Homo sapiens: one gene and its partners. The protein of the gene in region 1 purifies or fractionates together with the protein of each later gene. This does not show direct contact. Each region holds a gene or a part of one and is shown in the gene's direction. Other genes may lie near its edges. The genes, in order: RAB40B, ISCA1 and DCAF17.

Region 1 (9,505 bases):
GAGAAGAGCAGACGTGGGCTGTGCCCTCACATGGGGCAGGAGCAGAACACAACAGGGCCATGAGCTCAGCGGTGCCAGGAGGCGCAGCCAGTGTGAGTAGGGCACGTGGGCTCCGCCGGACTGCAGTAGAGGTGGGGGTGTGAAGAGGTCAGGTGAGGGTTGGGTAGGGGTCAGGTGGGGGTCGGATAAGAGTGGAGGATTGGGTGAGAGTCAGGTTGGAGGTGCAGGTCGGGTGGGGTCAGGTGAGGGGTGAGGATAGAGTGAGAGGTGGGGGTCAGGTTTGAGGTGGGGGTGTGAAGAGGTCAGGTGAGGGTTGGGTGGGGGTCGAGTGGGGGTTGGGTGAGAGGTGGGGGTCGAGTGAGAGGTGGGAGTTGGGTGGGGGTTGGGTGAGAGGTATGGTGAGAGGTGGGGGTTGAGCGGGGGTCAGGTTTGAGGTGAGGGTCAGGTGGGGGTCAGGTTTGAGGTGGGGTTTGGGGGGAGTCAGGTGAGACAATAAGGTGGGGCCTGAGGGGTCTCAAGGGTGGATGGAGAAGCGCCCCAAGCACTCATCCTGGGTCTCTTATGTCCCAGCCACGGCCAGCAGCCATCCCCGAACCCTCCCTGCTGTGCCCAAAGGGCAGAGCCAGTGCCCGGGGCCCTCACCCGCTGGGAAGACCAGAGACCACAGGGCTGGAAGGCGGACGCAGGCTTCCCCTATGAGCACTCGGAAGGCACGTGCTGTCTCCCGTCGGGGGTGGGCGCTGGTGCAGCCATGTTTGGAGAGATCCCCTCCCACTTAGTTCTCAAAGTGGGGTTCCTGGAGCTGTAGCATCACCACCATCTGTAACCACGTTGCAAATGCAGATTCCTGGGCCCCCAGTGCTGAATGGGAGCCTCTGGGTGTGGCCGCTGTGCCCTGCTCCAGCGTGGGAACCACTGGCGGGGGGCTCTGCTTCTGAAGGGAAGAGGGGACTGTGTGAGGGGCAGCGGTGCAGGGGTCCCGTAGTGCAGGGGAGAGCAGAGAGGGGCCTGGCGACGGCCTCTGCCTCGCCCACCAGCCTCATCCAGCTGTGACCTTGTTGCCTCTGCCCCCGCTGGCCCTCCCGGCTGGAAGCTGCGTCATCTGCTGGGGTTTCAGTTCCGTGCGCTCAGAGGACGCACTAAGATGCAGAGATGCGGGGCCCCAAGCATGATGAGACCCCCAATGTAGTTGATTCACCCGGAGGTGGGCACTGATCCCCACTGGGGAATTCCCTTATATGGGAATTTGGGGATCAGACCTGAGAGTGAGTGAGGCCGTTCTCTCTCCAAGGGGTGAAACCTGGGGGCCATGTTTTCTCCTGTGAGGAGGGAGCCCCTCTGCAGCGACAGGAAGACCAGCGGGCACCGTGGGAGGAACAAAGGCGGCAGGTGGGCCGGCCTCGCCGGCACTGGGTCCCTGGCTCAGCTACTTCCAGGCCGGCCACACCTGGCCCTTCCCACAGCACAGCCGGTCAGCCCTTCCCAGCTCACAGGAGACACTCCCAACCATCCTTCCATAAAATCGACATCGTGCTTAGGCTGGTTCAAGTTGCATTTCCACTGTTTGCACATCACAGACGGAACTATTTTAAAAATGAAAAACATGTTAGCCTTCAAGCTAAATTTGGAAGAAGAAAAAAGAAAAATGCCCCCTCCCTGTGCCCCCTCCGTGGGAAAATGCTGAAATAGATATTATGTGAATTACTGAGGCTGGTTTAACTTCCAGCAACAGAAAATCCATCTGGAGGTGGCACCAGGGAGCTGCTCTGTATCACAGGACAGGAGGCTCGTGGGTGGGCCCACAGTGCCCAGACGCTGAGAGGAGACTTGGAGTCTGCGTTCCTGTTTGCGAACCCCCAGCAGACGCCCTCACATCTCACTGCTGGAGTCTCCTCGTGGGCCACACCTACATGGTCACAGGCAGGAGTTGGCAGGAGCACAGGCATGGCTCAGAGCAGCAGTTTTCACAGTGGGGCCCATGGGCCCCCACAGGTCTCTGAGACCCTTTCATGGTCCTATTGGATTAGAGCCCACCCTACGGACCTCCTCCTAACCTGATTACATCTGCAAAGACCAAAGTATTTCCAACTAAGGTCACAGTCACAGCTTCCAGAGGGTGTGATTTCAATAAATCTTTTTAGGGACTCCATTCAACCCAGACAACCAAAACTTCATACGTGGTGAACCTTTGTCTCCTGTTTTCTCACGACTGCAGACAAGCCTAAACAAGATGACTTTTTTTTTTTTGAGACGGAGTCTCGCTCTCTCACCCCAGCTGGAGTGCAGTGGCACGATCTTGGCTCACTGCAAGCTCCGCCTCCCTGTTTCACGCCATTCTTCTGACTCCCAAATAGCTGGGACTACAGGCGCCTGCCACCACGCCCGGCTAATTTTTTTGTATTTTTAGTAGAGACGGGGTTTCACCGTGTTAGCCAGGATAGTCTCGATCTCCTGAACTCGTGATCCACCCGCCTTGGCCTCCCAAAGTGCTGGGATTACAGGCTTGAGCCACCGCGCCCGGCCTTTTTTTTTTTTTTTTTAAGATAGCATCTCACTCTGTTGCCCAGGCCGGAGTCCAGTGGTGTGACAGCGGCTCACTACAACCTCTGCCTCCTGGGTTCAAGCAATTCTCCTGCCTCAGCCTCCTGAGTAGCTGGGACTACAGGCTAGCGCCACCGTGCTCAGCTAATTTTTGTATTTTTAGTAGAGATGGGGTTTTGCTACGTTAACCAGGCTGGTCTCGAACTCCTGACCTCAAGTGATCCACCCACCTTGGCTTCCCAAAGTGCTGGGATTACAAGCATGAGCCACCACGCCCGGCCTCACCTCCACCTTCTGATGACATTTTACTCGTGGAGAAGCATCAGTAAATGTTCCTTTCATTCCTTCTGCCCACAGAGGCCTAGTCTCCAGAGCAGCCCCAGATCATGGGTGGGTGGATGTTCAAGGAGATTTCAGCGTGGCCACAGGGAGGAATGTTCCGATGATCCGAGATGGACAGGTCTGGAAGCCTGGCTCTGAGTTGGGCAGAAGGTAGGCTAGTGCTGTCCAGACACCTCCACCCTCTGCCTGGACTTTACACATGTACTGAAACTGGGGAGGAGGAAGAGGTATCCCACCACAGGACTGTCCCTCAGGAAACTGGGGGCCCTGGTGGGAGGAAACCTGCTTTGGCTGTAGAAATAAACACCTCTGTTTGGTGAAAGCAATGTTTGGGGCAAGAAGATGGACACCATATCTGAACACAGCCCTCTTCTGACGTGGTTATTTTACCTGGCCCTCCAGGTGGGAGTGGCCATGTTCCAGCTCAGCCAAGGCCAGCTTGGAGGTGACAACTAGGAGGTGGTGAGGACCTTCTGTGGGGCAGGAGAAGAGCAGACAAGGGCTCCCCCATCACCTGTCCTCTGTAGGAAGTGGTCTGGCCACCCCTCTCCATGCCCCACCGTGAACACTGCTGGACTGCTGGGTGTGACCCCGAGGGTGGGCTGGGGGCCTCCTGACCCCTATTGTACAGTGAGTCTGGATGTGTAGGTGGGGAGCGAGCAAAAGAAGGTACCCTTTCCTCACTAGGTAATAGCCATGTGACCCACAGCTGATTGGAACATGGAGACTGAGGGTTAGGGATGGGAAGGAAACTCCCCTGAATTCTTTTTGGCAGAGTGGTGGGGCTGGGGACTAAATGCCATCTTTCTCATAGTTTTCTAGCGTCCACCTTCCATCCTCTTTTCTTCCTCTGACCTTCCTTCTAAAAAAAAACAGTGCTGCAATCCCAGCATTTTGGGAGGCCGAGGTCGATCACTTGAGGTCAGGAGTCAAAGACCAGCCTGGCCAACATGGCAAAATCCCATCTCTACTAAAAATGCAAAAATTAGCTGGGTGTGGTGGCACATGCCTGTAATCCTAGCTACTTGGGAGGCTTGAATCCAGGAGGTGGAAGTTGCAGTGAGCCAAGATTACATCACTGCACTCCAGCCTGGGCAACAGAGCAAGACTCTGTCTCAAAAAAAAAAAAATGTGGCTGCATTAGTAACTAAAGCAACTAATCAACCAATGAATAACAGGTGTTGCAAACTAAATTGGCATTCCAAAGTAAACATTTTCTAGGTCCAAATGAATGCAAATGACAAATATAATAATCTTGACTTCAGTCTCTTTTGTAATTCTTCTTCCGCTCCCTCTTCTGTTCCTCCCCCACAAAAAACTTCTAATGGGGTCTAGAGCAGTTCCCTACACAACGCAGGGTGGAGGGGATGAAGTAGTGGGGGCATTATCCTTCTTCTTGGACGGAGCTCGCCCTTTGCCTGCTGCCTGAATTCTGCACCAAATAAACCAATGTGCACCTGGTGAGACCCTCAGAGCGAAGGGCAGACCTCGGCCTGGCAACCCTTGCTCTCTAGAGCAGAGGAGAAGCCAAAAGGCTGGAGGGTCCCACCCAATGCTCTCCTCCAGCACGCACGCAAACACATGCATGGATGCACAAACAAGCGCACGCACACATAGGAGCGCATGCATAGAAGCAGCACACGCAGACACACACATGCAAAGATGCCTGCAAAGGCACACATGCACACGCACATACATGTGCAGACACCTGCAGAGGCACACATGCACACGCAGACACACAGATGTGCAGACATCTGCAGAGGGACACATGCACACGCACATACATGTGCAGACACCTGCAGAGGGACACATGCACACGCAGACACATAGATGTGCAGACACCTGCAGAGGGACACATGCACACGCAGACACATACATGTGCAGATATCTGCAGAGGCACACATGCACACGCAGACATGCACACACACGAACACATGCACACGTACACAGGCGCATGTGCACACACAGGCATTCAGGCACGCCGCGTAAATGGGGCAACGACGAGGCCCTGGATGAACCGTGGGGAGAGACCGCGAGCCTGGATTCTACGGCGACAGGGACTCCTCCGGCGAGGCGGCCTGCGGGGGCCTTCCGGCCGCGTCCGCCAACTGGACCGACCCCGAGCCCCACCCGGCCAGGCACCCGAGGTCTCCCTGGTGGGCAGGTGGGGAGGCCCCACGCTGGGACCCTGCACCGCCCCTCGCCCCTCCCGACTCGGGGCGTGCAGACCCGACGACCGTGGGAGCGAGTTCGTGGCGCTCACGGGCGCACGCGAGAGTGTAAACACCCGGCCCCACCCCCTGATCGCCCCCACCCCGCCCCGCCATTGGCTGCGGGAGCAGAGTCCCCGCCTCCTGCTTGTTCTGGCTCCGCCCCTGCCCCGTCTCCGGGCCTCCATTGGCTGTGGTGACAGCGACCTTTCAGGAGGGGCGGGTGGGCGACAGCCCGGAGGCGGTGACGAGAGTAAGATGGACGGACAACCAAGCCAGTGAAAGCGCGCAGCTGCCCTAGCAACTGCGGTCCACCAATGGCGGGGCCGGGCGGGGATGCGCGCTGTCAGCGCTGGGCGGCGGGGCGGGGCCGGAGGCGAGCAAGGACTCGGGGCCCGCGCGGCGCCTCTCGGGGCCGGGCCGCCGCCTCTGCGCTCAGCCCCGCAGGCCGGGCATGGGTGGGGGCGCCGGGCCGTCACGATGAGCGCCCTGGGCAGCCCGGTCCGGGCCTACGACTTTCTGCTCAAGTTCCTGCTGGTGGGCGACAGCGACGTGGGCAAGGGCGAGATCCTGGCGAGCCTGCAGGATGGCGCGGCCGAGTCCCCGTACGGCCACCCGGCGGGTGAGCGCGGGCGGAGGGCGTGCCGGGGTGCGGGCGCGGGGCCGGGGAGGGGCGCGGGGCTGGGGAGGGGGTGCGGGTGGGGGTCCGGGTCCGGGGACGCGAGACCGGGCAGGGGTCGGGAAGAGGCCGGGGCGCGTGGCCGGGGAGGGTAGGAGTCCCGGTCCGGGGGCGCGGGGCTGAGGAGGAGCGCGGTTCGCGGGCGGGCCTTTCTCCGCCCGGCCCTGGCCCTCGTGCTGCGGCGTCCCTGTTGCACCCCCAGTTCCACTCGAGGCCCCGCGGCGCAGTCTCCATCCTTCTCCGCAGTCTGCGCGCAGCGGGAGCCCGCGGCTGGGCCGGGCGCTGGGCTCCTCCCGACCTGGGGCCGCTGCTGTGGGGACCCGGGGCGGGGGCTCGAGTCCGCAAGTGCGCGTTCGGCCGCGGGGCAGGAGGGGCGGGAGGGGACGCGAGCTCCGGGGCTCCTGGGGCGGAGCGCGGCGAGCAGGCGCCCAGGTGCTGGGTCTGCGCGTGGGTCGGAGGGGAGGGGAGACCAGGGTCCGGTCCCGAGGCCAGGGGTCCCGCGTGTCCGGGGGAGAGGAAGGAGCACAGGTGACTCGCGTGCGGAAGAGGGGACCCCCCACGACAGCGGCCGGAGAGCGGGTTCCAGGGCGAGGGGAGGCCGGAGCGCCCAGAGCTCCCAGGCAGGCAGCCCGGGGATCCCCCAAGTTTGAGGCTTGAAAGCCGGCGCCCGGCGAGGGGGTGGACGGCTCCGGGGAAAGAAAGGCGGGGGCAGGAACCCAGGAGAAGGGGGAACGCGCAGAGGCGAACACCTCGGCTGGGAGTGAGGAGCAGGCGGGGCCTTCACCCACGCGCATCCCTGGAACAGCTTGGACGAGGCCGACCCTGAGGCTGTGGAAGGAGCCCAGCCTGTGCCCACCTTCCTGCCGCGCCTCGGGGCTGAACCCACGCTTCCAACAGAGACCCGCTCTGAGTCCTGGGCGGAGGAGGGCAGCCGGGCGTGGAGATGGAGTCTTGGTGGGAAGGACCTGTCAGCTCTGGGGCCTGGGAAGGGTCTGGGAAGCCCCAGGTCCAGGGTCCTGCCAGAGACGAACTTAGCGGGAGAGGGTGGGAGGAAGCGGGATCTGAGGCTGCTCGGTAGAGGGTGCAGGCTGTCCCCTAAGGGCAGCTCCAGGCAGGCGGCGTGAGCACCAAGGGAGTGTGGCACGGCTGGAGGGGGTGGCCTGAGACTGTGGAGCGTGGGGTGGGACTCAGGTGCCCGGCCACACCTCAGCTTAGGGGACGGGGTGAGGAATGGGCAGAGTTTGGGGGAGCAGCTGAGATGGGCTTGGGCTCACGACCAGCACCCAGAGGCCTCCTGAAACTGCAGCATGCGGGGGAGTCTCTGGCAGCTGGTGGGTGCAGAGTGTGCTCCGTGGGGCAGGAGGGGAGCCTGCGTCTCTACCTGTCCCCAGGCGCCGCTGCCCCCGCATGTCCTACCCCCCTCCCCGCTCGGTGGCAGGTCTCTAGGACCGTGGTGTCCAGTAGGATGCCATGAGCCACGTGTGGCTGTGGAAGTGTAATTAGAAGGAAAGAAAACAAAAAGCTTCCATTCGTCACATTTCTAGATAGTTCGGATGTCGCTGTGGCAAAGTCCGAGGGCCAGCGCTGCCCTGGAGATTGAGCGCCTGGAGGACAGGGCTGGAGATTGAGCGCCTGGAGGACAGGGCTGGAGATTGAGCGCCTGGAGGACAGGGCTGGAGATTGAGCGCCTGGAGGACAGGGCTGGAGATTGAGCGCCTGGAGGACAGGGCTGGAGATTGAGCGCCTGGAGGACAGGGCTGGAGATTGAGCGCCTGGAGGACAGGGCTGGAGATTGAGCGCCTGGAGGACAGGGCTGGAGATTGAGCGCCTGGAGGACAGGGCTTTGTCTGCACTGTGCCCTCGGGGTCTGGGCTCAGTGAGGGATGAACCCTACCAGAGCTACAGGAATAAAGCACCCAACAACGTGTACGCCCAGACGAATATGGCGCTTTAAGAGCTGTGCGTGTTTTGGGGGAGCAGACGGTTGACAGTGTTGAGTTTGATTGAAGGTGAGTGCCGTGGGGCGTGTGTGAGAAGGGTCACGCACAGAATGTTTGTGAAACTTCCTTCTGGTTGGTTTGAATGGAGGCTCGGGGATGCTTCTGCTGCGTGACTTTTGGTTGCTACATGCCGAACTGAGGACGAACCAAAACAATGGTCCAATGCTTTGTAATAAAGGCTTTCCCTTGACACGGAGGGAGGATTTAGGCTAAAAATACACCTCCCACCGGGCCGGGGGCGGTGGCTCACACCTGTAATCCCGGCTTTGGGAGGCCAAGGCGGGCGGATCACCTGAGGTCAGGGGTTCGAGACCAGCCTGATCAACATGGAGAAACCCTGTCTCTACTATAAATACAAAAATTAGCCGAGCATGGTGTCACATGTCTGTAATCCCAGCTACTCGGGAGGCTGAGGCAGGAGAATTGCTTGAACCCGGGAGGCGGAGGTTGCAGAGATCGCACCATTGTACTCCAGCCTGGGCAACAAGAGCGAAATTCTGTCTTAAAAAAAAAATCCCATCAAGAGCTTTATTGTCTACTTGGCCTGAGCTGCTGTAGAAAAAACTGATATCACGGGTGTACCCTTGCAGGTTTTTGATTTACCAAATATTTGTTTTAGAGTTAAGAAAAGATATTCTGAAAAATAGTAAGAAGTTGAGATCATTATGTTTTGTTTTTTATTTTTTCAGAGACAGGGTCTTCTCTGCCGCCCAGGCTGGAGTGCAGTGGTGTGATTGCAGATCACTGCAGCCTTGACCCTCCTGGGTTCAAGCCATCCTCCTTTTTTGGCCTCCTCAAATGCTGAGATTATAGGCCTGAGCCACAGCACCTGGCCATGTTTTTTTTTTTTTTTAATGACATGTTTCGCTGAGAAACACTATAGGTGCTTGTTATTGAAAGGTGAGGGCAGCCGGGCGCAGTGGCTCACAGCTGTAATCCCAGCACTTGGGGAGGCCAAGGTGGGCGGGTCATGAGGTCAGGAGTTTGAGACCAGCCTGGTCAACATGGTGAAACCCTATCTCTACTAAAAATACAAAAATTAGCTGGGCGTGGTGCCGCGTGCCTGTAATCCCAGCTACTTGGGAGGCTGAGGCAGGAGAATCGCTGGAACCCAGGAGGTGGAGGGTGAAGTGAGCTGAGATCACACCATTGCACTCCAGCCCAGCGACAGAGTGAGATTTTGTCTCGAAAAAAAAAAAAGAAAGAAAGAAAGAAAGAAAGATGAGGGCGTTCGTAACTCCACACTCCATTTCCCTCCACCCAATTCCTCCTGAGTTTTGTAGCCCAGGCTGTTATTTTTATATTGTCCAGGTTTATAGCCCTTGCTTCTGTATTGTGGCTGTAGTGCCCGCAATGATTTAGTATCAATTCAACATTTAAATACAGTCAGTGCTCACCAAAGTCCTTTTACCATTTATGTCTCTGTTCATTGTGCTGTCCCTCTTAATCACCTAGATTTCATTATCAGTCGTTTTTTCAGAAGGACTCGAGTATTTCCTGAGTGTTTTTTTGTGTCTGAGAATGTCTGCCCATGGTCTTTATCTTTGAACAATGTAGAGATATCTTGGCTGGGTATAATACTCTTAGATTTATTTTCTTCCCCAACACTTTGCAGCTGTCATTCCACCATCCCCTGGCTCACATGTGCTGTGGGGAAGCCTGAGGTCAGCTGATTTTTCCCCATGTGGAGGCTTGTCCTTCCCTTCATGAATTTCTGAGGAATTCTTTCTTTT
Region 2 (9,909 bases), on another chromosome or scaffold:
TTTGACATAATACAGTTATTGAATAATTCATACTTTCCCCCATTGGTTTGAAATGCAAACTTCATTATGTATTACTTTGTTACATATAATCACTTAAGAATTTCTCAGGTCTCTTCAGTTTTTTCGTTGATCTATTTGTTCAGACTCCAGAACAAAATTTAGTAACTATTCTGTGGTATTGGTTTTAATCAGTAATCCTCATTTGTGTCCTCCACCTGTAAATATAATAAATTTCCCTTTTTCCTTTTATATCAATAAGTTATTGCTACAATGATTACCATCCACAGCTTCGTATCTGCAGAGTAATGATCTAAGATATTTATTTCTGGCCAGATAATTCTTTGCAATCTATTATGTTTGGCTGCAAATGAAGATACTGAATTATACAAGGCAGAACCTTAAGTTCGTCTGGTGCTCTGTACCAACATGGAAATAGTGAATATGTAAATGTATTAAAATGAGATCACTCTAGGAACCTGTCTGCATTCAGAAAGAATTTTGACTAAGCTTATATTTAATTAATCATGTGCATATATACTTTTCAATATCAAGTCTTATTACTTGATTCAAAACAAGTGACCAATTCTAGTATGAAGTTTTTGTGACTACTTAATAAGAAGTAATTTTATGGCTTTTGTCATAAAGCGAGGCTTGTTTCATTTATATTGGGTTTTGTTTCTTCCCCTCCTCTAGGTAGCCTTTCCAGTAAATATATGACTCAGGGAAAAGCCTCAGCGAAGAGGACCCAGCAGGAATCATGAGGGAAGGAAAATGCAGCACTCTAAATGGCCACTCAGGCGTTCCTATTCACTCGGAAAATTAGGTTCATTTCACAGGACACAGCAGTGTAGATCAGGCTTCAACTTAACATTTAAGGGAAATGTCAGATTTTTTTTTAATTTAATGAAATTGTTAATGAGGAAAAATTTTTAATATAGTCTTATCTACCACACATCCCCATAGATTTAAGGATTTTAATAGAAAGACATGATGTATGTATTTAAGCCACGTTAAAAGAAAAAATATAACTATGGACCGGTATTCAGTGAATACAGTTTCATGGTTTTTAATTCTTTCAAAGCACATTAAAAATGGTGTGCTGATAAACCCCAAGTAAATTAACCCTTTTTCCGTATAAATCCATTTTTTGTTTTGAAGAGGGGAAATTATATTTATTGTTGTTTACTGAATCCTGGTGTGAAAGCATATCAGATATGTATGAACTGCTACTGCTGTACTTCCGATTTACGGACATCATTTTATTGCTATTTGTAGACGTGATAACATGAACATGAGTACCTATTTATGTGGGCCTTCAGTGGATGGGCAGTGCCACTCAGGTCTCTGGGGTTTCCCTCTCTAATTTTAAGTAAATTGACATATAACTACTATGCTTATAAAAATGAAGTAAGGAAAACAAGTAGTCCTGTTTGCCACTAAAAACATTTTCAAAGGAAAAATAAAATGAAAGTACTTTTTACTTTTTATGATACTCAGAAATTAGGATGAAGAACTTTTAAAATTGCTGAAGATCAAAGAGGTTATCTCTGCCAGTCACAAGTGTGGCTGGTGTCATTCTGGGTCTGACTGGAGCCCTCCTGGACTGTTTCTTTAATTTCAAAAGCCCTGCAGACATAGTACCTGGTCAGAACTATGCCTCGGTTTATTTATCATTTTGAAATAAAATCAGAATTTCAACCTGTAATTTTATCTACATTATTTTCTAGTGAAAGATTCCTAAATTTCCTGGGGAAAAAAAAAAAAGATCAAGGAGTGAGAACATTGGGAATGATAGTAAGAGGCGTTTAACAAAAAAGAAGAAAGGACAAATATACTCCCCTAAAATAGTGTACACAGACTTCCCTTTGACTTGTGCCCTTGCAATCATTGGTGTGTGTTAACATCCAGTGTGTTCCAGGCTCTGGGAACGTATAAATTTGTTATTATAAAAGGCACAGATGGGGGTGGGGGGGCGGGGAATTTGTAGGCAGGGAGGCTCAGGGGGTGCTTGCTGGACGAACATTCTGGATGTTTGAGGACTCAGAAGACGCACATCCCTGTGCCCTTCTTTTTTAAACAATTATTTGAAGACAGTCTAGCTAAAGACGAATCATATCAAAATTAAAGACTTCAGAATTTGGAGGCCATGGTAGAAAGAATTAGTGATCATTCCCTACTCATTTTGAACGCAAACTAATGAATGACGCAACCTGGGCTGATGCTGCTCTACGTGACCGTCCTCAGCTGCCCCCTTCTGGTTTCTTCTCTCTAACTCATGCATGAAAGTCGACTAGGCTTACAATGCTTGTCACACTTTTCTTTGAAAAGCCCATTGATGCTGTTCTGTTGTTTTCTAGCATTATAGCAGAAGACAAGTCTAAGACCAGGCTGATTTTTGTTCTCTTGTAGGTTTTGTTTTTCTGCCTGGGTGCTTCTGTTTTTTAATTTTATCCCTGTAATTCAGAAAGAAAATTACCTCAATATAGAAATACATCTATCCAGTGACTTTTCATGCTAGGAAAACTTCAAGTTTAATCTCTACATGACTGGCTTAATTTTTACTGTCATTCTGGTGCTTCCTGTTTCTAATATGGATTTTCTCATTGCACTTCTAATTTTCTGGAATTTGCCTCACTGACCTTCCTTTACCTCTCATTTCTTTAGTTTACTTATATTCTCTTCCTTTTCATAGGAGCCATATTTTCTTGTATCCCTTTAAGGATGTTAAAAGTTTCCTACATTTTAATCTGATCCTTAAGGTAGCTTCTGCCCAAAGTACTGGGTCTTTTGTTTGATTTTCAATACCTCACACTGGATCCATGGGACAATGAGCAGTATTTGCCAGCAGGCCTGGATAATGGATTGCCCTTGATTCTTTACCTGGATGTGGTCGCAGCCCCATCTTGCTGCCCCAGCTGGGATGCCAAAACGTCTGCTCTTTGCTAAGTCCATTGGCCTAGCTATCTTTCAAGTGCAGCCGGCTTATCTATCTTAAGCTGTACAAATGCCCCATTACCAAGGTTCTCCTTGCCACCTTCTCTCAGGAACAAAAATATGAAATCTCTTTTGTATAGCAGTGGTCCAGTGGCCCCAATCTATGATGTTTAAAACTCTTGCTTGGCTGGGTGCAGTGGCTCACCCCTGTAATCCCAGCACTTTGGGAGGCCGAGGCGGGCAGATCGCTTGAGGTCAGGAGTTCGAGACCAGCCTGGCCAACATGGCAAAACCCCGTCTCTACTAAAAATACAAAAATTAGCTGGGCTTGGTAATGGGCATCTGTAATCCCAGCTACTCAGAAGGCTGAGGCAGGAGAATCACTTGAACCCAGGAGACGGAGGTTGCAATGAGCCAAGATTGCACCACTGCACTCCAGCCTCGGCGACAGAGCAAGACTCCATCTCAAACAACAACAACAACAACAAAACTCTTGCTCAATGTGTGCAGGATCAGCAGTGTGCAAAAATGTTTTTAAATGTTCTTAGATAACTTCAGTGTATTTTTCTTCTTGAAATATGTTTGACAAATGGCTTCTACTTTTAAATCTTTCCTGAGTGGAAAAGATCCTGGATAAATACATCAATAGAGTTCAGTGTTACAAGCAAAAATATACACACACACGTTGAAAACAGAATTTATCAAACCCCTGTAAAACTGTAAAGCCCTCAGTAGTTTTTTCTTTGGAAGCAGGCATATTTGGACAGCAGCAGTCAAGAACTACATAGACTTTCCACTGAATGGAACTCTAGACTTAGACAAGGTCTGGCCCACCTCGTTTTCCAGCTGTGTGGCAGTCCCCTAATCTCAGGCAGTTCAGTTTCCATTCCTATAAAATGGAAACCATTCTTGGCTTTCCACACAGTTGTGATAATCAAGTGAGGTCTTACCAGGAAAACACTTCTTTAAATGTCTAGAACTATGAAACTAATGCCTGAAGTGCGGGGTGAAACAGTTCCCTATTGCAAGTTCTGTCACATATTAGTGGAAATCTAAAAGTGGTTACAGCTTGTAACTCTTTTGACACTTCCCATACCCACCTCATTTTGACACCACTGGACAGCTGCTGCTCTGAGATAAGCTCACATACTGCTTAAATAATCGTGAAAATTATTTATTCTAACATAACATTATTTCAGGGACTTGTGCCAGTTTCAAGTGATATTAGAAACTAACAAGTAGATTATGTGACTTAATGCTTATGTGCAAAACAACTAACCAAGTTAAAAACTGAATAGTGGGGTTTTCTTTTTTGTTTGTTTTTGTTAAATAGTGGGTATTAAATAGAGGAAAGAAGTCTGTTAAACATACACAGGATCCTGAATCAGAAAATTGAGGACTAGATGTTTTCAATAGTGTCTAATGCTCTCTACTAAAATCCTTGAGTTTCAGCATCTGTAAAACTGCCATGCCAGTGCTTCTGCCCTACTCAGTTCAAAGTTGTGAGGCTAGTATGAGATAATATAATATGCTCATGGAGTTTTCTGAATCTTGTAAAGTGCTGCACAACTGTGTAATGTGTCAATAACTGAAAAAAAAATGACAGCATCTTTTATTTTTATTAAATTTTAATTTTAGGGCTGTTTTAGGTTCACAGCAAAGTTAAGCAGAAAAACAGAACTGCATATATCCCTTGTTTCCACATGTGCCTCACTGTCACTCTGCACCACAGTGGTACACTTGTTACAATCTTAAACCTACATGGACACATCATTAGCTCTCAGTGCCCATAGTTTACCTTAGGGTTCACTCTTGGTGGTGTACATTGTGTGGGTTTTGACAAACGCATAATGATATCTATCCACCATTATAGTAGTTTCACAATACATGGCATCTTTAAATACTCATTAACAATTACCATTTGAGTGAGGCTGTGTGCCTTGCACCCCTCTAAGGGCTTCTCCTGTATTAACTCATTTAATCTTCACAATATCTGTAGGAGGGAGGATATGAGATCCCAAACCCCCAGGTAGTCAAAGATGAAGGCCAAGAAACAAACCCACCACACCACCACCTCTCTATGTCCCTCCCTCCCTCCCTTCCTCCCTCCCATCACTTTTTCAGTTTCTTTCTTTCGAGATGCAGTCTCGCTCTGTCACCCAGGCTGGGGTGCAGTGGCGCAATCTTGGCTCACTGCAACCTCCGCCTCCTGGGTAGCTGGGATTACAGGTGCCCGCAAACACGCCCGGCTAATTTTTGTATTTTTAGTAGAGACGGGGTTTCACCATGTTGGCCAGGCTGGTCTAGAACTCCTTATCTCAAGTAATCTGCCGGCCTCCGGCCTCCCAAAGTGCTGGGATTACACGTGTGAGCCACTGCGCCCGGCCCCCAGTTTCTTTTATTTTCTTTCTTTCTCTCTCTTTCTTTCTTCTTTCTATCTGTCTGTCTGTCTCTCTCTTCCTATCTTCCGTTCTTTCTTTTTTTTTTTGAGACAGAGTCTCACTCCGTTGCCCAGGCTGGGAGTGCAGTGGCACGATCTCAGCTCACTGCAACCTCCGCCTCCCAGGTTCAAGCGATTCTCCTGCCTCAGCCTCCTGAGTAGCTAGGATAACAGGTGTGCACCACCACACCCGGCTAATTTTTGTATTTTTAGCAGAGATGGGGTCTCACCATGTTGGCCAACCTGGTCTCGAACTCCTGACCTCAGGTGATCTCCCCGCCTCGGCCTCCCAAAGTGCTGGGATTACAGGCGTGAGCCACGCGCCCGGCCCCCAGTTTATGTGCAGATAAGGCTTAGGGGAAAAAAAAAAGCGTCCTCTTATTGTCAATGCGATTGCATTTCTGTAGCAGGAAGTCAGAACTACTTGATGGAATTTTGAACTATCCTTTCAGAAACTGCAGGAGATCGAAGATAAACTTGGCTTTAAAAAATGTTTCACTGATTAGTTCTTCCCACATTCAAACACTGCGAATCTGTCCTCCCCAGGACTGCTTCATAGACCCCTCCTGCCCTTTTTCCTTCACTTCTAGCACTTCAATGACAAATGCCACCTGTCTTGATGTCCTCCTCTCTTCATCTGCTAGCCCTGTCCTGCCAGTATCTCATTCTTCCCTGGCCCCTCTTTACCTGGCTTCCTGTGTATGCCTGGGTACCGCGCCTGTGCAGTGTCTGGTGCTCAGGAATACTGCATCAAAAGGCAGAATTAAGCCCCTGAGCAGCCAGGACAAGGTCTGACAACACGTTTTAAATCGAGTAATTGTTGCTCGCTATAAATGTGACTATTCACACTGCTGCCCAGTCACATTTTCAAGTAGGGTTGGTTCCCAGTTCAGCACCAGAATGAAAACTGCATTAGTCACCACCCTTCAGCATCCCCAGCAGTACAGCACGCTGGGGAGAAGGGTGGAGGGTGGCGATTATACAACTCTGCGGTAACGCCATGCTCTTAAGAACAGCCTAATTGGACCACAAAAGAAGAATGAAAATGGATGTAGATGTCTGGGCATCGGAACGATCACTCTGCATTTGAGAGCATAAGCTCCCAGTGCAGGGTTGACTTATGCGTCCTTAAGTGTCACCGCCTATGATGGTGTTTGTCACGGTGAGTATTAAAGCAGGGGGTGACGCTGCACCTTGCCCCGGGGGCAGGTGGTGAAGCTACGTGCATCCGGAGTCAGCAGGTCTGAGGTCATTCCTCGCCCCCTCCCGCCCGCTCCCCGACGTCACGCCGACTCCGTCCTCGGCGGTGAAGACATTCCTCCCGGGCCCTGCGCCCTGCAGCGTGGTAACCCCACTGCCGGAGACCGTGCGCAACCCAGCTGCTAGACCCCCGGCGTTGAGCGGCAAAACCCCGCCCCGAGCGGCTTGCCCCGCCCCCGGCTCGTCACTCATGCAACTCACCCAATGGTGGCGGCGGGGGGCGGGGCTAGGACTGAGGGCGCCGTGCGCCGAAGCTTGTGGCGTCAATGCGCCCGCCGTGTCCATGGAGAGAAGCTGAGGCGGCCGACCTTCGGCCCGAGGCACCGGGGCGCCGGGACGGCGAAGATGTCGGCTTCCTTAGTCCGGGCAACTGTCCGGGCTGTGAGCAAGAGGAAGCTGCAGCCCACCCGGGCAGCCCTCACCCTGGTGAGTGCTCGCGGCGCGCGGCGGGGCCCGTGACATTGCTCGTGTCCGCCCCGTGCAAGGGGAGGTCACGGCGGCCGGGAGTGGGGCCGCAGGGACGCGGACACGTCAGACCTCGGCGTCGCTCCGACCCGCCGCACAGCCTCGCCGCCTCCTTCGCCTCCGGCCCCTCTTTGCAACGATAAACAAGTCCCGGGCGGGGCTGCTCTCTTGGCCCCGGAAACTACGTTTCCCGTCAGGCCGCGCGGCAACCGCGTGCGGGCCGGAGGGGATCCCGGGGGTGGGCGTCCCCGGGGGCCGATCGCCTCCACACTCCTGCCGGCCTGCGCTGTTCGGCCGTTCCGGTTAAGCAGAGGCTGAACGTGCCCGGTGGCGGGGGTTCCCGGTGGTGGCCCGGAGTCCTAGCCTGGAGGTGCGTGGGGTGGGGAGGGACCAGGCTGTCCGAAGGACCGCTGTGTCGGGGCGACAGCGTTCGCAGAGGGCGAGCACAGCGACAACAAAGCCCCCGGCTCCTGCCGAGGTCACGGCCGCGGCGCGCAAAGCGTTACTTGCCGGTGTCCTGGGTGATTGAGGCCTTTGAAACTCCCTCTGTGCCTCTAGCAAGCCTAGGCTCTTAGGACAAAAGATGATTTCCCAGAGTGAGTTTACAGCCTTTTCTGGGTGAAAGGTCAAACACTCAGAGGGCACCAGAGTGCAACCATTGATTACTTAGAGAATTCACTGAGCTCAGTGTTCCGGCCGCACCGTTCAGTTTTTTAGTGGAAGGAAAATCCACATAACATAAAATTAGTCCTTTTAAAGGGTACAATTCAGTGCCATTTAAGACATTCACAGTGTCGTGCAACCATCACCTCTATCTAGTTCCAAAATACTTTCACCCCAAAAGAAAAATTTATGATCACGTTCCTACATACACTCCCCTTTTAGTGAAGGAGACGACTTTATGCAACCATTCGCTTAGAGACTGGGAAAAAAAACGATTTAAATTGACTCATCGATTCTGTTGCATCTAATGCCAAAAGGGCCTATTACCAGAAAATAAGTTTGTAGCAAAGTAGAAGAAAATTGTGATCAGGTGAGAGAATTTATTTTTATAATCAATTTTTTAGGCCTTTGATATTACCCTGATTATATATGGTACTACTAGTGTACTGATTATGTATCATTCTATATTACCTCTTTTCTGTAGGAGCAAGCTTATTTTCATACACCGTGGGATGTAGAATTAAACAAGGTTTTAAGAACTAGAGGGCACAACTCATTCTTTGTGTCTCTTTCAATCTCAGTAAGAATTATTCAGAATTCTTCCACTGGTAATGGTAGATCCAGGAAGAGCCAGAAGGTTCAGGAACAGTTTTTGCCTTTTCTTTTTTGCTTTTTAGCAACCCTATTAACTGGGTTTTTTGTTTTTTGTTTTTTGTTTGTTTGTTTGTTTTTGTTTGTTTTGTTTTTGGAGACAGGGTCTCACTCTATCTCCCAGGCTGTAGTTCAGTGGTGCAATCATGGCACACTGCAGCGTCAACCTCCTGGGCCCAAGCGATCCTCCCACCTCAGGCTCCCAAGTCGCTGGGACCACCGGTGTGCACCGTCATGCATGCACCTAGGGTCTCCCTGGGTTGCCCAGGCTGGTCTCGAACTCCTGGGCTCAAGCAGTCCACTGCCTCAGGCTCCCAGTGTGCAGGGATTACAGGTGTGAGCCACCATGCCTGGTCCCTGATGTCTTTCTCCATCACCATTTGACATGTTACCTCTTCCTTCAGAATTTCTTTTTTTTTTTTTTTTTTTTGAGACAGGGTTTCGCTGGGTTGCCCAGGCTGGAGTGCAGTGGCGTGATCTCAGCTCACTGCAGCCTCTGCCTACTGAGTTCAAGCAACTCTCTGCCTCAGCCTCCTGAGTAGCTGGGATTACAGACGCCCACCACCATGCCCAGCTTATTTATTTATTTATTTTTGTATTTTTAGTAGAGATGGGGTTTCACCATCTTCACCAGGCTGGTCTTGGACTCCTGACCTCGTGATCCACTCGTCTCAGCCTCCCAAAGTGCTGGGATCACAGGCATGAGCCACCGTGCCTTGCCCTTCCTTCAGAATTTCTATGTCAGTCCCTTTCTCTCCATTCCTAGTCATTCAGCAGACATTTATCAAGATCTGCTGTGTTTCAAGACAAATGAATGAGTTATACAGTTCCCAGCCTACGGGGCACAGTCGCAGGCCAAGCCTTTGCCACCTCTTACTAGGAGTAATAGCACTGCACATTCTCAGGCTTGGTCTCTCTCCACACTTGCTCCCCTCTGCTTCAGTACATGTTATCATAGCAGTTCTCAAGGTATCCATGTTGCCTGACTCAGCTGTTTTGATTAACTTGCAGGAGTCTACTGTCTGTACTCTGTTGTCCTACTTAAGTATGGCTGACTTTAGAAGCTTCTCAGAAGCTGTACCAGAGAGAAGGCACATCAATGCTGTTTTCCACACAGCCTGTGTTGGTGGGCTTGCAGTCATTTTAGTTCCAGCATTCGTGCCCTAGTCAGGACACTATGGCATGTATTGCTCTTTGTGCTTAGTTTATCATCAGCATGTATCGTCAAGTGCAAAAGTAGTGATGCCGTCAAAGGCCTAATGAATGGAGACAGATAAGAGAGCAAACAAAAGTATACGTAATTCAGTAAAACTGATTGGAAGAGGTAAATGTTACTTGGGTCTAATAAGTAGAGACAGATAAGAGCAAACACAAGTATACCTAATTCAGTAAAACTGATTGGAAGGGATAAATGTTACCTGGATATATAAATTTTGATGTTAGGAATTTGACATGTTGCAACATTTGAAAAGTGCTATATGTGTGGAGTCTACCAG
Region 3 (10,443 bases), on another chromosome or scaffold:
CCAGCCTTTGAGATTTCTTCTCAAGCAAATAAAGTTAAAAAAAAAAAAAGTACTTAGCTGTTGATAATAGATTCTATACAAACATATTGTTTTTTATAGCCCATTCATTTATTCAACATACATATGCATTAACCACATTTTAGGTAGTGTAAAGCAGGGAGAATTATATTACTACTCAGTTTCTGCCCAGGTTAGTTGAGAAGACAGACAAATGACAATTCTAGTATAGTGCCACAACAGTATACACAGTAACATGGAAGCACAGAAAAGGCTACTAACCAAGCTGGAGGAGTTAGGGGAAGGGTCTCAGTGGAGCTGTGATACCTGGGATGAGTCTTGAGATCAACTGATAAGAGGAGAGGAAAGGAAGCTTCAGATAAAGAAAATCTCAAATATAAAGGCACATTGGCTTGAGAAAGTCAGCAAACATGTCAGAACCACAAAAGCAAACATGAGGGATGGCCAAAGAGATGAGGCTGAAAATGTGGGCAAGATAATGAAAACATGGGAAGATAATGAAGTGCCTGGTATTCTACCCAAAGAGATTCAGATTTTGTACTATAAGGTACCTTATGTGAACCCCTAGGGATTTTGTACACATATCTTCAAGGCTATGAGATTTCTGTAGGAGAAACCTTTCATTTTCAATTTGATAAAAATCTTTCAAAAAAAAAAAAGAATATTAACAAAAGGACACTCTGGATCATCTGAATGAGCACTTTTTAATTGAGTGCTGTCACAAGATTTGAATTCACACGTGTGTTTAGGAGTGTATTGCTAAACAAGTGGTGCTGTTTGTCATTGATACATGTTAATGAGAATGAAATGGGGACTACTGTATGTAAATGATGTTGTTTGTCAAGTAAAGGACAAATGAAGCCATGACATACTGAACAAATGAAGGTTTTGTGGTGATTTATATAAAGAAAAGAGGTGAAGGCATCAAGTAATCTCTCAACACAAGGGCAATATGGACAGACCTTTCTGTAAGGAAGGTACGCCACAGAGGACATTCATGATTAGAGCTTTTTAGGTCCAACTAAAGTCTCATTGCTCACAATCATTTGAATTTATTGGTTTTATAGCTTTGTTTCATTTAACTTGTAAATGTTCGGGTGTTATCGGTGTATAAAAGATACAACACACACATAAAAAAATTAAAAAGACAAAAAACAAGAAAGAGACAAGATGAGGAGTTTATACCTAATTTTATCTTTGCATATATGTGACATACTAAAAAGGTTTTAAGTTAACAATGGAGGATCCTGAGTATCTTATTTGGGTATAAGAAATACTGCTCAGCCAGGCGTGGTGGCTCACGCCTGTAATCCCAGCAGTTTGGGAGGCAGACGCAGGCAGATCACCTGAGGTCAGGAGTTTGAGACCAGCCTGACCAATATGATGAAACCCCATCTCTACTAAAAATACAAAAATTAGCTGGGTGTGGTGGCATGTGCCTGTAATCCCAGCTACTCGGGAGGCTAAGACAGGAGAATCACTTGAACCCGGGAAGCAGAGGTTGCAGTGAGCCGAGATCACACCATTGCACTCCAGCCTGGGCAACAAGAGCAAAAAAACTCCGTCTCAAAAAGAAAAAAAAAAAAGGAATTCTGCTATGGGCCAGGAACGGTAGCTCATGCCTATAATCCCAGCACTTTGGGAGGCCAAAGTGGGCGGATCATCTGAGGTCAGGAGTTCACAACCAGCCTGGCCAACATGGTGAAACCCCGTCTCTACTAAAAATATTAAAATTAGCCAGGGATGGTGGTGTGCGCCTGTAATGCCAGCAACTGGGGAGGCTGAGGCAGGAGAATCACTTGAACCTGGGAGGTGGAGGCTGCAGTGAGCCGAGATAGCCCCACCGCACTCCAGCCTGGACAACAGAGCAAGACTCCATCTCAAAAACAAAAAACAAAAAAAAAAGGGAGCCTGTCTAGGGGCTAGGGGAGGGATAGCATTAGGAGAAATACTTAATGTAGGTGACGGGTTGATGGGTGCAGCAAATCACGATGGCACATGTATACCTATATAACAAAACTGCACGTTCTACACATGTACCCCAGAACTTACAGTATAATAAAAATAAATAAATAAATAAGAAATTCTGCTATGGGTGTTCGGAGCTGCTGAAAGAATGCAACAGGCAAGTGACAGCTTGTGCTTTAGGAAAATCACTCTGGCAGCAGTATGGAGGAGGGCTGGAATTAAAAGTACCCAAGTGATAGCAGCAGGAGGCAGACAAATCCTAGGCAGATGGGGGTGGGTCCCCAGTGAAACCTGACCTTCAAGCTGAAGACAGCTTAAAGCCTAGCTACATGTCCTGGATAAATCTATGGACCAGATCGAGAACCTCTCTTCCCATTTGGTGCACTTTCCTCTGATTGATCCCCACCCTTCACCTATTTTACATATACCCACCCTTCTCTAATTTGTTTTTTCACACTGTTGTGCCCACCTTTGAGTGGTGCCTTTGTTTTAGCCTATTTTGCATACTCACAAACCAATCAGCATGCACTTCCCCATTCTGAGCCCATAAAAGCCCCAGACCCAGCCATGCCAGAAGAGAGGCCAAACTACTTTGGGTGGGGGACCACCCTTGCGTCCCCTCTTGGCTGAGAATGAAAGGAGTTAGCCAGCTTGCTTTAGGCAGACAGTAAGGGAAGCGTCCCTGAAGAACCTACGACGTGCCCCAAAAGTGCTTACACCAGATGTTTTGTGCACATAAGGGAATTTGCACAGGGGGCTTGCCTAAACATGCCCACAATAGAAAATTCCATTCCCTAACACATGTGCAGTAAGGGAAATAACCAATATGGAGTAGCTCAGACTAAGGGCCCACGAGCACACTGGAAGGATGGGGTGGAGCCTCCAGAAATTTGCACCTTAAGCCCAGGTATTCAACTGTAAAGGGGGCAACCAGCAACCTGCTTTCAGGACCCCTTTCTTTACTGGGAGCTTTCCTTTCACTAAATAAATTCTACTCCACTCACTCTCCGGGGTCCACACACCTAATTCTTACTGATTGTGAGACAAAAACTCAGACCTAGCTGAGCTAAGAGCAAAAATCCTGCATCAAGAGCTGTTTTGTTGCTCAATAAAACTCTTCTCTGTCCTCCTCACCCTCCGATTGTTAGTGTAATCTCATTCTTGGACACAGGACAAGAGCTCAGGATGCCACCAAACATGGGTAGGAAGAAGAGAGTAACACGGTAGCTCTCTGCCCCACCAGCAGCGCCTGGTAGCCACCCTATGCAACAAGAAGCAGGGCGGGGGGCCAGGCCAGCCCCAGGGCCATGGGCGGGAGTGGGGTAACAGGACTGATAGGGCTGTTAACATGCCCCTGTTCGTCAGGCTGCAGAGGGCAGATCTAAAAGAGCTGTTAGCATGCTGTAACACCCACCTCTGGGGCTTCTGGGTTGCCTGACCCATTTGGTTACCACCACCTTCCCCTAGTCTGGACTCCAGAGCCCACTGTGGGAGTCACTTGTGACATGCCTGGTCCAGCCGCAAGCGGTGCACGGAGCCAGCTCCTGTGCCGGCACTTGGAGCAACCAGCTGGATACCACACAACTCTGCACTCACCAGCTCAGACACCCTCTCCTGCCAGGGGCTGAGCCCACAGTCAGGTGGCCACAGGATCCACACCTGCGTGCAAGCCAGGAGTGGCCCAGTGGGCCAGTTGTGCAGGGCACCTCCTGTGGCAAGCCCAGCCCGAGCAAGGCCTGGGTAGGTCTCCAGCTGCGGAGGTCTCCAGTGGCAAAGCAACGTCAAAAAAAAAAAATCCTGTGTCACAAGTAAGGCAGAAATTAAGAGACTACTTAATAATGTGATAAAAAATGGTGAGGCCCTAAATTACTTAGGTGAAATGAAGATGAGATGGATAAGAGTCTAAAGGACTTGGTTGTGGGTGAGGAACAGCAAGGCATCCAGGATGACTCTCCCTTGGTGACGACTTGGTGGTGAAATAAAGGCCACAAGAAAGAAGACAAACAAGTGGGGGCAAAGAGGAAAGAGAAATGAGAGAGTTGATGAATTCAATTCAGAAATGATTTGAATTTCATTTAAGCCAAAGAAAACCCAGTTATCTTTTCTGGGTTCCAGTTTTCTCAGTGACAGCTGCATTCATGAATTACCAAATTAACTATTGTAGCACTCTCTAAAAATATACAAAGCACTCTACCGTATGCTGTAAATAAGTCATGAAAAATCAGCAAAAGCTCGAGCCCTGAAGGAAATTCAGCAGGGTTAAAAAGAGATATGGCCAATGTTTACTAAACACTTAAACTGTGACCCAACACACTCACCCAGTACTGTAAGTACTCACTTAATGTCATCAACAGATTTTTGGAAACTGACTGTAAGCAAAATGACATATAACAAAACCATTTTTACCATAGGCCAATTGATATAAACAAAAGTTAAGTTCCTATAACATATTTCTGGTCACAAAAACATCACCAAACTCCTAAATACAAACCAAAACACTTCTAATATTAAACATTGAAATAAATGGGAGCTATACATACATTTAAGGAAGATTAATAAAAACAAGTAAGATAGTTATTTACCTAATTATTCCAGTTCAGGGTCGAGGGTGGCTGAAGCCTATCCCCTCAGCTCAGGGTGCAAGGTGGGAACCAACCCTTGGACACGACGACATTCCATCGCAGGGAGCACTCACACTCACACTCAGACAGGAAACACAGACAAGGCCAATTCATCCAGCCTGCACTGAGATGTGGGAGGCAGTACCCTGGGGTACCTGGTGAAAACCCATGCAGACGTGGGGAGAAGGGGCAAGATCCACACAAACAGTAGCCCCGGTAGGAAATTATTATTTTTTCTCATCAAGTTATACAAAATGACACTGAACGAAAAAATGCGATTCAAGGACCTGCTGTACTGTACTTTTTGCTCTGCCAGTCAGGTGCGATCGCTGGCTTTCTTTGAGCACCTATGAACAAGAGGTAGCATGCCCAAGTCCACGTGGGAGATACAGCGGCCCCACCCTTAAGGGACTTAGAGCATGGCGGTGGGACACATGTGGTGCAAGCTTGCTGAAAGTTTAGTGTGCTGGGAACTTTGAACATACAGGCAGGGCTAGTTAACAAAGTATATCTTTTACTTAGAGACATCGACGAGGAATATCTTAGGCCGTCCAATAAGAATGTAAGCATTTCATATTTTATTCCCTATAAAGAAAAAAGAATGGAGGCGAGAGGAAATGAAATGAAGCAATTATCGCAAAACCAGTCAGTGTCCCCGCAGGCCACCCAAGGACAAGCCTCCGGGAAAGAGTAACTCAATCCCAGTTTGGAGGGTGAAACTAAGAGTGAATGGGAAGCCAGCATCTTCCTAATACAAAAGCACAGTTTACCGTCCCCCTCAGCCAACATGCGGCTGAAGGGAAAGCCGCGGGGCGTACCTTTAGCACGGGACGCTGCTTTGGGGGGATCGCCCTCGACACAGCGCCCCTCCCGGCACCTGGCCAGAACCTCCCAGGGCGAAGGTCGGGGCCGAGAAGCTTGTGAGTACCGGGGCAGTGAGGGAGGGATCCCTAAGTGCAGGGCGCACACACGGGGCGGAGACCTGGAGGCGGCAGCACCGCGCCCCCAGGGCTCTGCCCAGCTAGCCACTCGCAGCACAGAGAAGCGCGCCCGCAAGACAGCGCAGCCTCCGCGGGCCGGAGGAGGCGGGGCCGCGGCAGGCAGAGGCAGGGCCGGGCAAGCCCTCGCTCCCCGCCGCCTGACGGGAATTGTAGTTCCTGGGAGAAGCCGGGCTGCCTCACGAGGCACTAGGAACTACATTTCCCGGTGAGAGAGCGGCTCCGGCCGGCCGCGCGGTACCGGAGCGTCGCACTGTCAGCGGCCAGAGAGCCTGGGGCAGATCGAAAAGGGAGTGCTTCTTCCCTTCTCTCCGCGCTCTGGCGGTGCAAGCGGCTCTGCTTTCCCTCGCCCCGCCGTCGGGTGCTCCCTGCCCGCCTCCCCGTGTCAGCTTTCCCTGGGCCCCGCCGGGAAAGTCTGGGCCTCGAAATTCGAAGGCAGCGGCGGCTGCCCAGCACGGGAGTGTGGGGCGCGCCACTCGGCGGCCCAGCCTACCCAGGGCCCGGCCCGCGCCTCCATGGGCCCGACCCGGAAGCCCAACGTGTGCAGCCGGCTGAGTCGCCGGGCGCTGGGCTGCTTCTCGCGCGACGCAGGCGTGGTGCAGAGGACCAACCTGGGCATCCTGCGGGCGCTGGTGTGCCAGGTGACCGCCAGCCGGCCGGGGCGGGACGGAGGGCCGCGGGCGCGCGGCGGCCGAGCCTCCTGCGGGGATGCGGTTTTAACGCGCTGGGGCCTCCCTTTATAGGGTCACATGTGATGGGGAGGAGGATACAAGCCCGGAATCTGGGATAGGTGGTAATAGGGCCACCAGCTGCTTTTAGTTTTACGCTTCTTATGTCTTACCTGGAAACAATTATTCTAAAAGTTGGTCACCTCATTAAGCCAAAACATGAGGGCAGAGTGGAGGAAGGATGCAAAAAGTTTTAAAATAATATAGGTGACATTATGTTGCTTTGAAAATTTAAAATCTAACTTAAAGCCTAAGAGTTCTTTCCTGAACGGAAATTCTTTATGTCTTTTAGGAAAGTACTAAATTTAAGAATGTCTGGACAACTCATTCCAGGTCACCTATAGCCTATGAGAGAGGAAGAATATATTTTGACAATTATCGGCGCTGTGTCAGCAGGTAACTTTTTATTGATAATTTTGCTGTAATTCACCTCACTGTTGATCTTAACTATAATTTGTATAGAACCACATGCCTACATTAGTGCCTAGTGAAATAGAATGAAAAAAATGGGTCCGAAATAAGACTAGGCAGTAAAAAATGCATGTAATTTTAAAATCTTGTTAAATCTAAAGTTGCAGGTGTCATTTTTGTAAATACCAACTTAAAGCAAAACTACAGTGCAGGCAAAACCACAGATTGTTCAGAGTACTGTTTAGTGTTTAGTCTACTTATACCACAGTCAAGAAATCCAGTTGCCAATCAAATAATTAGATGCTGCTTTGGAGAATTGATGGATTGTGTTTTGGAAGTACTTGCCTTTTTTTTTTTTTTTTAGAGAAATTTTTTCAAACAAAAGCCTAGTATTTAGAGATCCAAAATGTTTAACAGTCAGCCTCATCCACAACTGTCCAACATGAGGGGGGAAGGAAAGCCACAATGCATCCCCATATACTCATTACCCAGATTCAAAAACTATCAAGATTTGCCACATTTGCTTTATCTAACCCACTTTTCCTTTTGCATGACCTCTTTTAAAGCATATTCTAAACATACATCAGTTTGCATTTTTAAAAAAATGAGCTTTTTTTATAGGCTTTATTAGGATATAATTCACATACCATATATTTACCCATTTAAAGTGTACAGTTCAATAATATTTAATGCATTCACAGATACATGTAATCACTACCACAGTTAATTTTAGAGCATTTTCATCACTTCAAAACAGAACCATGTACCTTTAAGCAGTCACCTCAGTACCACCATTACCCTCAGCCCTAAGCAACCACTAGTCTGTTTTCTGTCTGTAGATTCACCTATTCTGTACTTTTCATATAAATGGAATCATATAATATATGGTCTTTTGTAACTGGCTTTTTCACTTTGCGTGTTTTCAAGGTTCATCCATGTTGTCACATGCATCAGAATTCCTTTATAAAGTTGAATAATATTGCATTGTATCAATTACCACATTTTACGTATCCGTTTATCAGTTGTTAGACATTGGTGTTTCTACCTTTTAGCTATTATAAATAATGCTGCTATAAACATTTCCATGTAAGTTTTTATGTGGGCATTTATTTTCACTTCTCCTAGATTATACCTAGGAATGGAATTGGTAGGTCATAAGATTATACTGTAACTGCGTTTAATAGTTAGAAGAACTGCCATACACTTTTCTAAAGTGGTAGTACCATTTTATGTTCCCATAAGCAGTATATGAGGGTTCTGATTTTTCCACATTCTTGTCAACACTTGATGTGTGACTCACAGCATCTCACTGTGGTTTTGATTCCATTTTCCTGATGACTAGTGATGTCAGGCATCTTTTCTTGTGCATATTAGCCATTTGTATGTTATTCTTTGGAGAAATGTTTGGTTAGATATTTTGCCCACTTGTAAATTTTTTTTTTTTTTTTTACAAAAATCCTTACATATTTTAGATACAAGTCCCTTATCAGATATATGATTTCAAATACTTTCTCCCATTGTGTAGATTGTCTTTTTACTTTCCTGATGTTATTGTTTGAAACAGAGAGGTTAATTTTTTTTTTTTTTTTTGAGACAGAGTTTTGCTCTTGTTGCCCAGGCTGGAGTGCAATGGCGTGATCTCGGCTCACTGCAGTCTCCACCTTCCGGGTTCAGGTGATTCTCCTGCCTCAGCCTCCCGAGTAGCTGGGACTACAGGCATGCGCCACCACGCCTGGCTAATTTTGTATTTTTGGTAGAGACCGGGTTTCTCCATGTTGGTCAGGCTGGTCTCGAACGCCCAGCTTCAGGTGATCCGGCCACCTCGGCCTCCCAAAGTGCTGGGATTACAGGCATGAGCCACCGCGTCCAGCCACAGAGAGGTTAATTTTGATGAAGTCCAATTTATCTAAATTTTTTTCATTACTCATGCTTTTGGTGCCATATCTAAGAATCCATTGCAAAATTTGAGGTCATTAAGATTTGCTCCTAGGTTTTTTTCTAAAGGGTTTATAGTTTTAGCTCATATTTAGGTGGTTGATCCACTTTGAGTTAATTTTAGTATAGGGTATAAGGTAGGTATCCAACTCCATTTTTTTTAACATGCAGCTATACATTTGTCCTAGCACCATTTATTAGAAAGACTTTTCTTTCTTCATTGCAAGGCCTTGCCACCCTTGTCAAAAATCAATTGACCATAGACACTTTTGGATTTATTTCCGGACGTTCAAGTCTGTTCCACTGATCTGTATGTCTGTCCTTATGTCAATACCACATTGTCTTGATCACTGCTGCTGTGTTATTTCTTCTTTAAATGCTTGGTGGAATTAACCATTGAAAGCATCTGGGCTTGGCACTTTCTGTTTTGGTAGGTTGTTCATTATTGATTACATTTCTTTAATAGATACAGACTTATTCAAGTTATCTAATTCTCCTTGGGTAAATTTTGATAGATGGTGTCTTTCAAGGAATTCATCTAAGTTATCCAAACTTGTGAGCCTAGACTTATTCATAATATTTCTTTATTATTGTTTTAACGTCCATGAGATCGGTAGTGATAGCCACTCTTTAATTTCTCATATTAGTAATCAATTTTGTTGACCTTTTCAAAAAAACAGCTTTTGGTTTTGTTGATTTTCTCTATTGATTTTTGGTTTTCAATTTTACTACTTTCTGAGCTAATTTTTGTTATTTCTTTGCTTACTTTGGATTTAATTTGCTCTTCTTTTACTAGTTTCCTAAGGTAGAAACTTAGATTACGATTTGAAGTCTTTCTCCTTTTCTGCATATGCACTTACTGCTATACCTTTTCCTCTAAGCATTGTTTTTGTTGCATCCCACAAATGTTGATACGTTGTATGTGCATTTTCATTTAGTTCAGAATATTTTTAAATTTCTCCTGGGACTTCTTTGACCCATGTGTTATTTAGATGTGTGTTGTTCACTCTCCAAATATATTGGGATTTTCCAGTTATCATTGTTTTATTGATTTGTGGTTTAATACCACTATGACCCAAGAGCATACTTTATATTAGTTCTAGTCTTTTAAATTTGTTAAGGTGTCTTTTATGGCTCAGAATGTGGTCTACCTTGGTGAACGTTTCGTGTAAGCTTGAGAAGAATGTGTATTCTGCTGTCGTTGGATGAGATATTCTGTTTGATCCAGTTGACTGATGGTACCTTTCAGTTTAAGTATATGCATAATTACTAACTTTCTGCCAGCTGGATGTGTTAATTACTGATGGGTATTGAAATCTCTATAATAGTGAGTGGATTTATCTATTTCTCCTTGCATTTCTATCCGTGTTTGCCACATTGTGTTTTGATACTCTGTTGTTAGATGCATATGTATTAAATATTGTTATGCCTTCTTGGAGAATTGACACCTTTTTCATTATCTTATGCCCACTTAATCCCTGGTAATGTTCCTTGCCAAATTCGACTTTGTCTGAAATTAGTATAGCTACTCCAGCTTTCTTTTGTTTAGTGTTTACACATTGTATCTTTTGCCATTCCTTTACTTTTAATCTATCTGTGCCTTTTTTTTTCCCCCCCAAAGTCAGGGTCTGGCTGTGTCTCCCAGGCTGGAGTGCAGTGGCACAATCATAGCTCACTGTAACACCAAACTCCTGGACTGAAGCAATCCGACCATCTCAGCCTCCCAAGTAGCTAGGACTATAGGCATGTGGCTATTTTTAAAAC

The links.
Region 2: the proteins of RAB40B (region 1) and ISCA1 purify together in Homo sapiens (affinity purification with mass spectrometry; 3 studies listed by BioGRID and IntAct, with this or other methods). This does not show direct contact.
Region 3: the proteins of RAB40B (region 1) and DCAF17 purify together in Homo sapiens (affinity purification with mass spectrometry; 3 studies listed by BioGRID and IntAct, with this or other methods). This does not show direct contact.

The regions. Positions count from the first base shown.
Region 1 is NC_000017.11:82,694,665-82,704,169, reverse strand, and holds the start of RAB40B (ras-related protein Rab-40B), read left to right. Parts: upstream 1-5,471; 5' UTR 5,472-5,573; coding exon 5,574-5,715; intron 5,716-7,316; exon of another isoform or gene 7,317-7,781; intron 7,782-9,505. UniProt on the Homo sapiens protein: RAB40B small GTPase acts as substrate-recognition components of the ECS(RAB40B) E3 ubiquitin ligase complex which mediates the ubiquitination of target proteins.
Region 2 is NC_000009.12:86,279,529-86,289,437, reverse strand, and holds the start of ISCA1 (iron-sulfur cluster assembly 1 homolog, mitochondrial precursor), read left to right. Parts: upstream 1-6,899; 5' UTR 6,900-6,979; coding exon 6,980-7,060; intron 7,061-7,356; exon of another isoform or gene 7,357-7,469; intron 7,470-7,984; exon of another isoform or gene 7,985-9,909. UniProt on the Homo sapiens protein: Involved in the maturation of mitochondrial 4Fe-4S proteins functioning late in the iron-sulfur cluster assembly pathway. Probably involved in the binding of an intermediate of Fe/S cluster assembly.
Region 3 is NC_000002.12:171,428,458-171,438,900, forward strand, and holds the start of DCAF17 (DDB1- and CUL4-associated factor 17), read left to right. Parts: upstream 1-5,768; 5' UTR 5,769-6,120; coding exon 6,121-6,246; exon of another isoform or gene 6,247-6,315; intron 6,316-6,318; exon of another isoform or gene 6,319-6,540; intron 6,541-6,625; coding exon 6,626-6,729; intron 6,730-10,443. Other genes in the region: METTL8 (tRNA N(3)-cytidine methyltransferase METTL8, mitochondrial isoform 2 precursor), read right to left, coding at 6,217-6,224. UniProt on the Homo sapiens protein: May function as a substrate receptor for CUL4-DDB1 E3 ubiquitin-protein ligase complex.